2 linked regions of the Homo sapiens genome follow. The protein of the gene in region 1 purifies or fractionates together with the protein of each later gene. This does not show direct contact. Each region holds a gene or a part of one and is shown in the gene's direction. Other genes may lie near its edges. The genes, in order: SPATA13 and GLDC.

Region 1 (8,203 bases):
CAGAACCAAGCCAGAGTCAGTGAGTGGCAGAGACAGCTCTTTACTGCAAAATCCCAATGGCTTTCTGCAGATTCTGGCCTGCAGATTAGAAAATGGGACATTTTTAAAAACTGTGGTAAAATACACATAAGACTTACCATTTTAACAATTTTAAGTGTGCAATTCAGTACATTAAGTACATTCATATTGTTATGCAACCGTCACCATCATCCATCCACAGAACATTTCTCATCTTGCAAAACTGACATTCTGTCCCCATTAAGCAGTAACTCCCCACTTTCCCACTGCAGCCTCTGGCAATCACCATTCTACTTTCTGTCTGTGAATTTGCCTACTCCAGATACCTCATATAAGTGAAATCCTACAGTATCTGTCCTTTTGTGATGGGCTTATGCATTTAATGTAATGTCCTCAGGGTCCACCTGTGTTGCAGCGTGTGTCGGAATTTTGTTCCTCTTTAAGGCTGAGTGATATTCCATTGTATGTATTTACTACATCTTGTTTATTCATCCATCCATTGATGAATACTTGGGTTGCTGTCACCTTGTGGCTGTGTGAATACTGCTGCTATGAAAGTGGGTGTACAAATATCTGTTCGAGTCCCTGCTTTCAGTTCTTTTGGGTATATCCCAGAAGAGGGATTGCTGGATGATACGGTAATTCTAGTTTTTTGATTTTTGAGGAATTGCCATACCTGTTGTCCACAGCAACTGTGAGGACAGCGTGAGACCGTTTATTCTCCTCTTTTGCCTGTAGCTGCCCTGCCCATTCGTATTCCCCCCTCCAAACCCAGGTGTGATGGGGGCCCTGTCTCCGAGCAGACAGGGAGGCACCGTAGATGGCACACTGGATCTGGCTCCTGGCCCACCCCATCTGTACTCTAGTCCTTTGGCCTTGATGACCCATTCCTGGAGGCAAAATGCTTTCCTCTCTGTGCCTCAATTAATTGGGTTTCCCAGCACCCCAATAGCCAAATAGATACTTATGTGCTAAGATAATGTGATAAATGCCAAACATTATTCTGTCATCCTAGGAAGCTTCAAATTAGAGAGAGATCTGCTCTAGTAAACTGTAGAATAAAATATAGCAAACGCACCTTATCCATTCTAATCAATGATAGCCACCAGTTATTGAGCATTTGACCACGTGCCAGGCAGTGAGCTGGGACTTTACATACATTATTACACTTAATTTTCACCATAAGATATCACAGATAAGGAGCCGGTCAAAGTGAGGTTATGAAGTTTTCCTAGAACCCACATGGACAGAGAGCAGAAGAGGCTCAGGTTCTCTCCTGCTCTCTTGGGTCTTGCCTTATGTGCCAGAGGCATCTGTGGTTCAACCAACCCCCTTTTGTCCCCTGCCACCTTCACAACCAACAAGATGCTGGAGGCTGCTAGATGAAGATAAAAATGTCAGTGATATTACTGACAAAATCATCTGGAGAATGAGTGCACAATTGTTGCTAATGATCTCTGAGTGACCTCCCAGCTCCTTTGCCTCTGCTTCCCTAACCCGGTCTAGACCTTAAGTTACTTCCTCCAGGTGAAAGTCTGGTCTGTGGCATCCAGACACTGACCGCAGATTTCTCCCAGCCGTAGTCTGGGCGGAAAGGTTAAAAAAGAGTGAATACTCTGTGCTGTTAATAAATTAATAAATCAGGTTATTCTATCAAGGGAGTCTACCAATGGATTTCTCCAACCAGTCAGGTAACTCCTTTTTCTTTTTTTTCTTTTTAATATATTTTTTTGAGATGGAGTCTCGCTCTGTCACCCAGGCTGGAGTGCAGGGGCGCGATCGCGGCTCACTGCAAGCTCCGCCTCCCGGGTTCACGCCATTCTTCTGCCTTAGCCTCCGGAGTAGCTGGGACTACAGGCGCCCGCCACCACGCCCGGCTAATTTTTTTTGTATTTTTAGTAGAGACGGGGTTTCACCGTGTTAGCCAGGATGGTCTCGATCTCCTGACCTCGTGATCTGCCCGTCTTGGCCTCCCAAAGTGCTGGGATTACAGGCGTGAGCCACGTGCCCGGCTGGTAACTCCTTTTTCTGCAGTAGAGGGTGGGGCGGAAGCCATACGGGTTACTTTATAGGAGCTCCTCAAAGAAAAAAAACTGAAATGAGGAGAAAGGAGTTTCCTTTCTGCCCTGTACCTCTTGAGAAACCCCTGCTGAATGGAACTTTCAGCAGATGGAATACAGCATTGCTTCTCCCCAACCCTGGGGGAGCTCACAGCACTGCTTTGTTCAGAGCATTTTCAAACAGGAGCATGAGATCAAATCCTGGCTCCACTGCTCACCAGCTGTGTGACCTCAGATGATTCGTTCAACCCTTCTAACTTCATTTGCCCCATATATAAAATGAGAAGGATAACTGTACCTCAAGGATTGTCTTGAGGATTTAAGAAAATGATGAATGTAAACAACGTGGCATAAGTGTCCAACAAATATTAAGGGAAAGACACATTCTAGTTTTGGAGATGTTATGTGGAACAACAACAAAAAAAGCGCGTTAGACTTAGTGAGAGGTGGTAGTTTCTATCCTTAGACACTCTCCTGCAGAAAGCATCAGTGTTGTTAGGACGAACTTGGGTGAAAGTTTTGAATATTCAGGCTCCAGTTAGAGTCTTGAGTACCAAAAGATCAGCAGAGAAGAAAAGAGGTCACCGACCTTTGGAGGTTCCCACTTGCAGGAAACAACAGAATGCAGATGCCGGCCTTGTCTGCGAGGCTGTGAGTGATGGCGGCCATGTGGATAGAGAGCCATGTTGACAGAAAGCCACTGCGGGAGACCTAGGCTTTTACACAGAGGCCACATTGTGATTCCCGCAGGAATGGTAGAAATGGAAGGAAATTTAGCTATTGCTCGTCCTAATCTCTGACTTAACAGAATGGAAAAGCAAGAATAAGCGTCGGCTGGTGATGTACTCCCGTGATGAACACAGCTGGTTAGAGCCAGGTTGGACTGCGCCGCCTCTTCATGTCAGATCAGTGAATTTTCTCTTGAGCCATCCTGCCTTCCTCTAATAGATTTGTAATCTGAACCCAGACATATCTTTTATCCCAGGCGCTCAAAAGGTTTTCACTGAAACCCTGAAAAAAATATTTTTTAAAACTCACAAACAAACAATCAGCAAGCACCTGTATGTGCTAAGTTGATAGATAGTAAGAGTCTTACATGGGCTAAAGTTTTAATTCTCCACCCAATGCAGAGTGAGGTCCCACTGTCACCGGCTCACTGACGAGGAAGCTGAGATTCAGCAAGGTCCAGCACTCGCCCAGGGCTTGTACAGGGCCTCAAGGATGCGGGGGTCTTCAGGTCTAGTTGGTATCACTCCACAGAAATCCATTCATCTGAGGGCCAGGCCTGTTTCCCAAGGACATAGTTTCAAATATAGTGCTTTCTTCACTATAAAAAGTATTGCATGTAAATGTTAATAGTGGTTTCCAAGTAGGCAGAAATAACCTTTTGAAACACAATTTTTTTAAAAGAAAAATCAAAATCTGCTCCTCAGATTTGTGCTAATTCTAAAGAGATAATAAAAAAACCCTCAATTTAGACCGTGATATTTTTTTTTAAATAATACTAACATAGATTTCATTTTAGCATTTGTGAGTGCTTTGTGCAGATTTTTTATAGAGTAGAAATAAAATGGAACAGTCAATGATATTAGCCTCACATACTATGTTTCTAAAATTTTCCAAGGTTTGGTTTTTATATTTTTTCAGCTTTAAAAATACATGGTCATTGTTAAAACTTGGGGTAATTTCAATAACAATTCAAAGAATTAAATAAAATTTGCCCATATTTCCACCACCCACAGATAATTATCATTAATCTTGGAGTGTGCTTTAATTAATAGACTATTTTTAGAGCAGTTTTAGGTTTAGAAAACAGGAATGGAAAGTACACGGAGTTCTGATGTACTCCCTCACGCCCCTCCCTCCACACACAGCTGCTTGTACTGACATCTTACATTCGAGTGGCACATGTGTTATGATTGATGGGCCCATGTTGTTACATTAAGATGAACTAAGTCCATTACTTACAGGAGGCTCACGCCGCATGCTGTTCATTCTGTGAGTTTTGAGAAATGCATAATGACATGAAGCCACCATTATAATGTCATACAGAGTTTTTTCAATATTTTAAAAAACATACATAAAATTAATTTTCACTTTTCATTGGGTAATATAATTTTTGTTTTTTATTTTACAGATTGTGGGTATTGTTCTTTGATTATAAAAGACAATAGACATTTATAAATAATAGTGCTGGCCACTAAATGAATCATCTAAAAAACTACACTGGTAGAAAGCATGCATTTATTTTATGAATTCCATTAGCTGCCTATCAGGGAACATGGAGCACTGGGGCACAGATCCCAGCACAGAAGGGTTTGCTTCTCTTCTGTGGTTTTCATGTCAATTAATGATTAGGCCTTGAGCCTCACAAGAAAGGTGATAGGCCTTTGAGTCGGTTTACTGCAACAGTCTACTCAAGACTTGCCCCAGGCCCTGGGAAACATGTAGGTTTAAAAATCCCTACCCTGCGTTTTCCTTTCACAGGGAGTGAACTTCTGGCCCAGGCAGTGGGCAGTGGGGCACGGTTGCCCCGGAGATGAGACTCCTCTTCCCGCCCTGGGGGGTGGGGGCTGGCTGGTGGCTGAGGGAACTATTTTTGTTTGTTTCTTTTTTTAAAAAACGGAGTCTGGCTGTGTCCTCCAGGTTGGAGTGCAGTGGCGCGATCTCGGCACACTGCAACCTCCGCCTCTCGGGTTCAAGTGATTCTCCTGCCTTAGCCTCCTGAGTAGCTGGGATCACAGGCGCCTGTCACCACGCCCGGTTAATTTTTATTTTTATTAGAGACGGGGTTTCACCATGTTGGCCAAGCTGCTCTCAAATTCCTGACCTCAGGTGATCCGCCCACCTCGGCCTCCAAAAGTGCTAGGATTACAGGCAAGAGCCACTGCGCCTGGCCGGGGAACTGTTTTTGATGGGTGGGGTCCCCGGCTGTGGTTGGTAGTGTGGGGGCGTGGCCGAGGGTGTGGCCTGAGGGAGTGAGCTAACCGGGGGCGTGGCCTGATATGGGGCGGGGGGAAGAGCCGGGCTGGGGGCGTGGCCTGGTGGGGAGCGGGGCTGGGGCGTGGCTTGGCTGAGTGTGCTGCCGCGGCGCGGGAGGAGAGTGTGCGTTGCGCTTTCTCCCGCGATCGCCCTGCCGGTCGCTAGCTCCGAGGGCGCGCACTGGATCCCAGGCTCCTCCGAGAGTGCGGCGACCTCGGGGCTCCGCCGGCACCGGAGGTGGCTCTGAGGGCAGGGACGTGTTGGACACGCTGACTTTGTAGGCTCCGCCAAGAGGCGCCGCAGGAGGTAAGACGGCTTCGGGCGCGCGGCTCTGCCGGGCGGGCGCGGGCATGGGCTGTTAGGTAGAATATCGGGAGGATTTGAGTCCCAGTGGACTGCCTCGGGGCTTCGGGATGTCCAGCTCCCAGCTGCTTGGCCTCTGCTTCCCCCGCCGGTGGAGGCTACCGGGTGCTCACCTGTTAGGTCCGTGCGCCCGCTCCCTGCCCGGCGGTGGCTCTGCGCCCTCTGGGCCACCCGGCACCATCGCTTTTGGGAGGACATGCACGTGGTGTTCTCGCAAAAGGCCGTTTCCAGCCGGAAGCCTGCAGGGAGGTCGCCTTGTAACTTCACCCGCGCTCCCAGCTCGCGGGGCCTGGCCTACAGGGGCGGCCGTGGGGGTGGCAGAGTCTGGGGAGCCTGGCGCGGCGGAGCCCTGTAACGCTCTGCTCCATCGGGTGGCGTGGCTGGTGCCTCCGGGGACCCGGAGCGATGCGGTTGGAGAGCTTAGTTTAGAAAGCAAGTTTCTCTTGGTACCAGCGGAGTCTCGTCCCAGGGGAAAGATTTTGGGACCCGGTGCCCATCGTCTGTGGACTGCAGGGAATGCATTGGCGGAGTTGGTTTGGTCCCATTCTGTGCAGGAGGTGGGGGAATTGGTACTCCAGCCCCAGGCAGGTAGAAGCCCGCGCTGCTGCCAGCGTCAGGGGGAGCTCGGGTGACTTGGGCTGGGCCACCCATCTGACTGCAAGGTTACAGAGCTTGAGCAAATTTCCCCTCCCTCCAAGTGCAGGAAAACCAAACCAAAGCAAGCAAACAAAACCCTGTGGGTCATTTGCTTCCCAGCATTGCATAGGGATGTGGATAAATAGAATAATACTGTGAATTTATTCAGCTCTTGTTCCCATGGCTTCCCATAGCCTTATATTATGCACCTCCCCCTGCCAGCATTTTCTCTGTCCCCACCTTCGGTTTTTGCTGCCTCGTGTTTTCTTCTCTGTGAACCTTTCCTGGTCACCCAGCGATTTGCTCTCCTTTATTCCCCTTGCTAACAGGCGGAGAAATCTCACTCCTTTTCTTTTTCCACCTTTCCCAACAAATTCTCCTTTTTTCCTAATGTCCCCCTCCCCCGTCTTGCAAACTTCCTCACTGCATTATTCTCGGGGTGCCTGTCATGCACCCTCCCTGTTCTCTGCCCTCCTCCCGCACTTTAGAGTTTCATGTGGCTTTGTCTTATTATCCCATATCCTAATTCTCATCTACCTCCCTTGGCCCCCACGTTTGCCATCTGCCTCCACCCAGTTCTCCCATCTCCTTCCTTATTTGTGCTCCCGTGCATATGCAGGTTTCTTCCTTGTTTCCCCATGTTTCTCCCACAGGTGCTTTCTTCCCTTTGCCCTACTTCTCCCTGGCAGGCGCTCTGCCCAGCCACAGCCTGCCCCGCCTGGAGGGCACACCTTGCCTCAGTGCCTTCTGCTGCGGTTTTCCATGCTCCATCAGCATCCCTGGGTTCCTTGTGTTCTTCCAGTCCGCCCTCTGTCACCTTGCAGACGGCTTTCTCTCCGAATGTCTGCAAGTGTCAGAGGCGAGGAGTGGCAGCTGCATCTCTGCAGGAGGACTCTGGATTTCAGGACCCTCCCTTCTGCCACTGCTTCTGACTGATTGTTTTCTTATTGAAGTCGTATCCTCTACATAGTTCTAGAATTAATGTCAATATTGATGTTAGGTAGCATCTACCAAACTCTGGGTGTGTGCCAAGCACTGTTCTGAGGGCTTAACGTGCATCAGTACTCATTTAAAATCCTCCACACATCCCTATAATGTAGGATCTACTACTGTCCCCATTTGACAGATGAGAAAAGGAAGGCTCAGAGGAGGTAACCGGCATGGCTTCTTGCCACTGCCTAGCAGTGGAGGCCCTCTTCTCACCAGACAGTGGAGCTTCCCTGCTGGGTGACCTCTTGAACTCAGGCATGCCTGGAGTTTAGCTTTGGAAAGGAGGTTGTTATATGACATGTTTTATTTAGTCTGCAATGTACACCAGTGGAGGACATGAATTCTATACCTGTAGGACAGTGCATGGAGAAAAACCTAATGCCGGCTGTCCCTCAGAAAGCCTGGGGCCAGTGCCTGGGCTGTCACCTCATCCATGCTATCAGTCTACTTTCCCTCTTAGCCACAGGAAGCCCTGAAGAAAGTGGCATAAAAATGACCTGGCTGGGCACAGTGGCTCATGCCTGTAATCCCAGCACTTTGGGAGGCCGAGGTAGGAGGATTGCTTGAGCCCAGGAGTTCAAGACCAGCTTAGGCAGCATAGCAAGACCCCATCTCTAAAAAATAAAAATAAGAAATCAGCTGGTTGTGATGGCGCACTCACCTGTAGTCCAAGGTGCTCAGGAGGCTGAGGTGAGAGGATCTCTTGAGCCTGGGAGGTTGAGACTGCAGTGAGCTATGATTTTGCCACTACACTGCAGCCTGGGTGACAGAACGAGAGACTCTGTCTCTAAAAAAATTAAGTTAAATTAAAAAAGAAGACTACTGCCAGCTGTCTCCTCCCGTGCATTGAGAGTTCCGTTTCACTTTAGCTGGACAGATCTTTATGGTCTCTGTTAGCTGTGTGACTGTATGAGTCTTATTTATATCCATTTCATTATGTAATCTTAAAGCCTTGTCCAAACATTTCTTTTTTAGTCTTTATCTTCCTAAGAGTTGGAGGCAAGTAGTATTTCTACTTTACAGATACTGAAGCAGAGCATGCACCTTGATAGCTGAAAGGGACTTTATATTCTACAGATGAGGAAACCGTGGTCCAGGGAAATAAAATGGCATATTCAAGGGAAAGCAGCAGGACAAAGTTGGCTCTAAGGCTT
Region 2 (7,268 bases), on another chromosome or scaffold:
CTGATGATGATTTTGCTCTTTCTTTGCTTCCTTTCTATTCTGTAGGTTTGCCTCATTCCGAAATCAGCACATGGGACCAACCCAGCAAGTGCCCACATGGCAGGCATGAAGATTCAGCCTGTGGAGGTGGATAAATATGGGAATATCGATGCAGTTCACCTCAAGGCCATGGTACTTGTCTTCTCCTTAGCAGATGGGAGAGGCCGGGATGGGGAGTGCTGGTGGGGATCAGGGACTTGATGGATTATGTAAATGTCTTCTCTTGCATTCTAATGAAAAGTCTGCAGTTCTTCCTTTGACCAGAGTCTACTCTACCCCTCCCATCACCAACAGGGAGAAATCCCCGTTTTCTAATTCCAGCTTGTGTAAAAAACTGAATGAATTATTCATGGTGGTAGTAAGAGTACTCCTTGCAGAACCTGCCTGCCTCTTTCTGCCCAATCTTCCCTCTCCTTCTCGCCTTCCCCACTTAATAATCAAAATGGCAGTCACACTTACACATCTTCGTGTCAGGAATTGTAACACAAATGTCAGCTTTGCAAATATCCATGACTGTGCCAGCCCCATCATGCTGAATTCCTGGCATCATGCAGCTTGGTTTCCACCAACCCCCACTCTCAACCTCCCAACCTCCAGGAAGAAGTTGCTTAGCAACCGTATCTGCTTCCCACCAGCGGACTGGCAGCTGCATCTTAAGCGGGAAGGAAACCAGTGGAATAGCAATGTGATTTTGATGGTGGTGTTATTAGGCATGGAGACTGTGAACTCTGTGCAGTTGCCTTCTAAAGGAAGCTGAAAATCCACAATGCTGCACCTCTCTTCGATCCACCTCTACCCTTCCATTGCTCCACAAAGCTTTTTTCCAACAAGTGTTCCAGGCCAGTAGTTGAAATTATTAAGTCCCTCCATTATAGTAATATAGGACATGACTTCCCTGGCCACCCCCATGTTCTCAAACATGCCTGCTCTGATATGCTGGCCAGGAAAACAAACAGGGATGTGACTTTTATATATGCTTGCCTTCTGTAAAAGGAAAGAATAAAGAAGACTTTTATTTACAGAAACACTTCTTGTGGGAATTCTTTTTTTTTTTTTTTTTCCAATTCCTGTTCTTTATCTTTTTGTTTGTTTGTTTTGAGACGGAGTCTCACCCTGTCGCCCAGGCTGGAGTGCAGTGGCACGATCTCGGCTCACTGCAACCTCCGCCTCCCGGGTTCAAGCAATTCTCCTGCCTCAGCCTCCTGATTAGCTGGGACTACAGGCGTGTGCCACCATGCCCAGCTACTTTTTGTATTTTTAGTAGAGACAGGGTTTCCCCGTATTGGCCAGGATAGTCTCGATCTCCTGACCTCATGATCCGCCCGCCTCAGCCTCCCAAAGTGCTGAGATTACAGGCGTGAGCTACCACGCCTGGCCTCTGTTCTTTATCTTTTTAAATGACAATAGTTGTACATAGTCATGGGGTATATAGTGATGTTTCTATACATCAAATGTATAGAGATCAGATCAGGGTAATCAGCATATCCATCATCTCAAGCATGTATCATTTCTTTGTGTTGAGGGAACGTTCAATATCCTCCTTCTAACTATTCAAAATTATATATTGTTAAATATAGTCATCCTGCAGTGGTATAGAACTCTACAACTTACTCCTCCTATCTAGCTGTAATTTGGGAATTTTAACTTCAACAGAAGGCAAGGGAAAGGAATGGATATGAGAAGATGAGCAGAGAGATTAACTATGAGAATGGACGCACCTAGAACCACAAACGTCTGAAATCGTTATTGAGATGACTTGAACCAAGGGAAAACCACCTTAGAGAGTTGGGCCCAAAATATCCAAAAATCTTGTGAATAGTCCTTTTGGTCTGGACCATAGAGACCTAGCCTGAAAGGATCTTATTATTTCTTTTTTTCTTTTTTCTTTTTTTTTTTTGACGTGGAGTCTCTCTCTGTTGTCCAAGCTGGAGTGCAGTGGTGTGATCTTGGCTCACTACAACCTCCACCTCACCGGTTCAAGCAATTGTCCCTGCCTCAGCCTCCTAAGTAGCTGGGATTACAGGCACCTGCCACCATGCTCGGCTAATCTTTGTATTTTTAGTAGAGACGGGGTTTCACCATGTTGGCCAGGCTGGTCTCGAATTCTTGACCTTAGGTGATCTGCCCGCCTCGGCCTCCCAGAGTGCCGGGATTACGGGCATGAGCCACCACACCCAGCCAGGATCTTATTATTTCTTTGGAATGATTTGTGAAGGGAGTAATGGCTGTGGTTTTTTTTTATTGCTGTCATTGTACTTTGAGACAGTTCCAGGAAAGTAAAGACTGAGACTTCATCTTTCTTCATCCTTTAAAATGAAAGGCGAGGATTTGGCCAAGAAAGAAACATATCCTCCCTCCATGTCCTTCTCTACCCCTTTTCTTTCACAGGTGGATAAGCACAAGGAGAACCTAGCAGCTATCATGATTACATACCCATCCACCAATGGGGTGTTTGAAGAGAACATCAGTGACGTGTGTGACCTCATCCATCAACATGGAGGACAGGTCTACCTAGACGGGGCAAATATGAATGCTCAGGTGGGAACTGAAGAGGCCCGCCCTTAGTTCCCACTGAGAAAATGGATATGTGGAAAAAAAAAAAAATTCTGACTTCTTGAGAGGCTTCCTGCCTGAGGGAACTCAGACCCACGACCTGACCACTGGTGGTTGTTGATCTCTCATGGCCTTGGAAAGCCACTTATCCTGGCATCAGCTTTATCAGCTGTGAAATGGGGGCTCAAAGGGCCCAATCCTGATTACTTGGGGGACAGAGGATCTATGTACTGTGAACCTCTGAAGAAATGCTGTTGGGAGCCCCTGCAGGAGAGGAGTGACACAATCTTTTTGAGACTCTTATTGGTGTTTGCTTTTTTCCTTTTTCTTTCTTTCTTTCTTTTTTTAGATGGAGTCTCACTCTGTCGCCAAGGCTGGAGTGCAGTGGTGCGATGTCTGCTCACTGCAACCTCCACCTCCTGGGTTCAAGCAGTTCTGCTGCCTCAGCCTCCCGAGTAGCTGGGACTACAGGTGCATGCTGCCACACCCAGCTAATTTTTTTAAATTTTTTTATTTTTATTTTTGTATTTTAGTAGAGATGGGGTTTCACTGTGTTGCCCAGGCTGGTCTTGAACTCCTGAGCTCAGGCAATCCACCTGCCTCAGCTTCCCAAAGTGCTAGGATTACAGGTGTGATCCACCACGCCCGACCTCTTTTTTTTTTCCTACCATTTTAGAGCCTTTCTTTGGTTCTCATTCATTTCACAAGTGTAATCCAGAGATTGTCTATTGGTTCTGTAGCATAAATGAATTCTGTACCTTTGGTCACCATCAAAATTAGTCCTAACACCCAAGTGGTGGGAAGGCTAGTGGGATGGCATGCCTGGTATCTGGGTCATCTCGGGAAGACTGCGAGCCTTGCCTTCCCTCTCTCAGTTCAGCCTCCTCCCTGGTGCCCCCGCAGCCCCTTCCATCACTGTGCCCAACGGGGCCGTTCGGTAACGTGCATCATACTAAAGCCGACCACGCAGGGGAAGGTAGCGCTGCTCAGGGAAGAGTTGCCTATTTCAACAACATGGAGGTTCTGCCCTTTCTTGTGTTAGAGACACTTCTCTCCCTTTGTGGTGTGTGGATAATTAGGAAGAGACTGTGTATTCAAATCCATATTTTTAAATCTAAATTGGACTAAATGGTCAGTTGCTATTTCCATAGCAACCACAAGCACTCTGCCTATCGGATGCCAGTTTGTGACTACGGAACTGGGCCAGTATAGAGGACATTTCTGTGAACACCATGGATGTGGCTCTGCCTGCTTTTCCTCTGAGGGGAGAAGGCAGCACCGGCCAGCCATGGCCTTCACACTGGAGGGTGCTTCCAAGCTCTTGACTTTTGCTTTTGGCCCTTGCCTTTGTGGTAGGTGGGAATCTGTCGCCCTGGAGACTTCGGGTCTGATGTCTCGCACCTAAATCTTCACAAGACCTTCTGCATTCCCCACGGAGGAGGTGGTCCTGGCATGGGGCCCATCGGAGTGTAAGTTCTGGGCTGCTGGTTTCAGGATGGCTTTGGAGACAGAATGAAGGAGTGGCCCTAAATAGACTACTCATCCCATCAAAGTCTTCATGTGTTGAGGATACCCTCATCGGTGTAGTGCACTTGTAGGGGCTGGGGGAGGAGCAGCAAAATGGGTGCTTTTAGGGGATTTCCAAAGAAAAGCGTAATTAGATTTTACTAACCATAGCATCTGGCCTCACTGAGCTTCCAGTTGCACATAGACAGCAGGTTTATTAACAGAATAATGAATAGGGAACTTCACCTGAGCATACGTATTGTAACTGGAATATTGGCACTAGAAAGTGCCTTTCGGACTTTTGGATTTCCTAGCATTTTTTTTTTCTTTTTTAAAATCAGCTAATGGTTCCATTGAAAGTGAATTAGATGTAAGGTGTTGAGATAAGTAACACATAAGTAAGGAAGAAACAAACCTGGTTACTAGAAATAATTGGATGAAGCCAGAGTAGGACTGAAGGAATATTTCTTAGCTGTGGATAACTTTTTACACTGAAATCAAATCATCTTGGGAAAATGATGATGAGAGCAGCTGTTTTCCTGAGCTGCTTCAGTCTCCCAAAAATATGCTAAAGAAGTCAGTTTTCAGAGTTGCTGGAAGCTTGGCCTTCTTACTTTTTTCTTCTTTCTTGTTTTTTTTTTCTTGGACTACGGTTAAAGTGAGATTCATTTTGATGATGATTATTTCTAGTAAATGTGTGAGCTCCAGTGCTTCAGCTGTCAGGGAGGTGGGGAGAATGATGTTCATGTCAGCCCATGGGGCATCTTCTCATCAGCCCCTCCTATGTCCATCTTGGGAAAGTGTATAGGGGTGAGGGAATGGGGCTGGGAGTGGGAGGGAGGGACATGGAACTCCACTGTTTTATGGCTGCCTGCCTCTATCAAGCCCTCCACCACATTTCTTGGGTGAGCCCTGGGACACTGATGGCTGGTGGACCTCCACCAGAGGAGGAAGGAAGGAAGGATCGCTTCCTGAACATCTGCCTCCCAGCAGGTGGAGAGTCCCTTCCACTGTCAGAGCTCCTCTGCTAAGAACAAGGCTTTCTGGGAGGGCCCAGAACCTTCCCATTAGATTAAACTGAATCGTTTACATTTTCTGAATTTGCACTTAAAAAAAATACAGGAAGAAACATCTCGCCCCGTTTTTGCCCAATCATCCCGTCATTTCACTAAAGCGGAATGAGGATGCCTGTCCTGTGGGAACCGTCAGTGCGGCCCCATGGGGCTCCAGTTCCATCTTGCCCATTTCCTGGGCTTATATCAAGGTGAGGCCTGGGAGTATGTGCAGGTGTGCAGGTGGGTGGGGGCGTCAGGCATGCATGGGGACCGGATACTGCAGACTTCTTGGCTTAAAAACAAATAAATTCATGATCTGAGATGTGGTTCAAAGAATATTGCTGATGGCCTGGGTGGAAGAAACCTTCCTGAAGAGATGAGCTAAAAATCATTTCATCTCTCCTTCATTACACTACTTCTTTTGGGTTCTCAGAGTGGGTTTAACATCAGAGAAACTGAAACATCAGATATATTTTTCCAGACACAGCTAAGTTCCATGAGTCATATGGATGTTCTGGCCGCATCCTTTGGTTTCCTGCAGGATTTATATAGCCCCTTCCGAGTGAAAAGCAGTGCATGTACTAATTATTCCACTTTGCTGAGATCCTGCTATATATCTCACTTTGCTATATATTTCTTGGGGGGGGCCAGAGGAGAAGATGAAAAATAGCAGAAATTTGCTTCTCTGGTTTTTCCCCAGAGCTCTTTGGCCTTTAGGGTTTGTGGTGCTGTGCTCTCTGCGTAATTAGTCAGAGTACAGGCTTCCTTCCTTTGTCTTATTCCAAATAACACCAGGGCCAGAGTTGATTTTCTACAGTTCTTGTTCACACTGCCCTGCCCACCTCCTGGACTGACAAGACTGTGAATAAGAACACTTGTTTGGCTGCTCATTAGAGCAGTCTCCCCAAAGCAGTGCCCCTCTTTAAAGGAAGGCGGGCTCCCACTGAAACAAAACCCCCAAAACGCAGCTATGCCAATCATTCCAGAGGACTCTGTGGAGCTGACTGTTTATTTCTGGAACAGCATGGCATTTATGATTCTTCACGAAAAGTTTCTTGGAAGCCGGAACAATTCTGTACCTCAGACACTAACACTTGCTTTTAAAAATGATACTCAAGTTGTTTTGCAAACAACACAAGCAATCAGAATAAAGGTCTGCTTCTTTGTAAGCAGAATCAAATTCCACTTCCCTTTTGATCTCTGGGTTCTGTAAATCTGGGTTATTTGTATGAACATATTTGGGTTGGAGATGACTTCCCACATATAGGAAATAAATGCCCCAAGGTTGGTTTGGCTACATGCCTGGAACAACAGCTGGTGCCTCAGTTTAAAAACTAAATAAATAAAGTAGGGTTTAAGCTGCCCCCTCTGGCCTTGGGCCTTCTCTTATTTCAGGCTGTTATTACTTATCCCCTGGACTCTAGCTTTAGCTGCTTCTCTCCCTGCTGCAATTCCACAGGCGCACCTACAGGACTGCTAGACTCACCCTAGGCCCCCACGTATCTCTCGTGGCTTCCTGTTGCTTTACCTGGTTCTCACTAGCCTGCACGAAATCCTTAGGGGATTCTTTCAGAATGCACATGCCTAGGCCCCATTCCAAGGAGAACCAAACTGAGCACATGTAGGGTTGGACTTAAGCCGTCTGCATTTTTAAAAAATCCCCCCATGAGACATAGGTTGAGAGCCAGTGGTTGGCTGGACAAAGTCGAAGTCCTTCCTAGAGAAGTTTTGGGCTTAAAAATGGAGTCACAACTCACCTTGCCCTACATCCACTCCCAGATGACAGTCATGTGCCCTCCCCTTCCACGCCTTCATTTCTGCCATTCTTCTCACCTGGTATACCTTCTCCTTTCTCTTTCCCTATCCGAATTCTACTTATTTCTAAGTTTCTAGCCAAGTTCTGGCTCTTAATCTAGGAACCCTTCTTTGACCAGCCTGGAGCAATGTGGCCCCTTTTTACTTTGGACCCCCTTAATGATACCAAAGTACTACTGTTGTTTTATTTGGTGCTCTCTCATTCTCTTTACATTAGTTATGTATTTAATATATATGCCAACTCCATCACATGTGAGGTACTCTGGGAAGAAAGTAGGCCATAAGAATTGGTGCAGTCTT

The links.
Region 2: the proteins of SPATA13 (region 1) and GLDC purify together in Homo sapiens (affinity purification with mass spectrometry; 2 studies listed by BioGRID and IntAct, with this or other methods). This does not show direct contact.

What each region holds. Positions count from the first base shown.
Region 1 is NC_000013.11:24,155,567-24,163,769, forward strand, and holds the start of SPATA13 (spermatogenesis-associated protein 13), read left to right. Parts: upstream 1-5,153; 5' UTR 5,154-5,366; intron 5,367-6,849; exon of another isoform or gene 6,850-6,938; intron 6,939-8,203. UniProt on the Homo sapiens protein: Acts as a guanine nucleotide exchange factor (GEF) for RHOA, RAC1 and CDC42 GTPases. Regulates cell migration and adhesion assembly and disassembly through a RAC1, PI3K, RHOA and AKT1-dependent mechanism.
Region 2 is NC_000009.12:6,551,462-6,558,729, reverse strand, and holds part of GLDC (glycine dehydrogenase (decarboxylating), mitochondrial precursor), read left to right. Parts: intron 1-45; coding exon 46-171; intron 172-2,427; coding exon 2,428-2,577; intron 2,578-3,948; coding exon 3,949-4,061; intron 4,062-5,220; coding exon 5,221-5,362; intron 5,363-7,268. UniProt on the Homo sapiens protein: The glycine cleavage system catalyzes the degradation of glycine.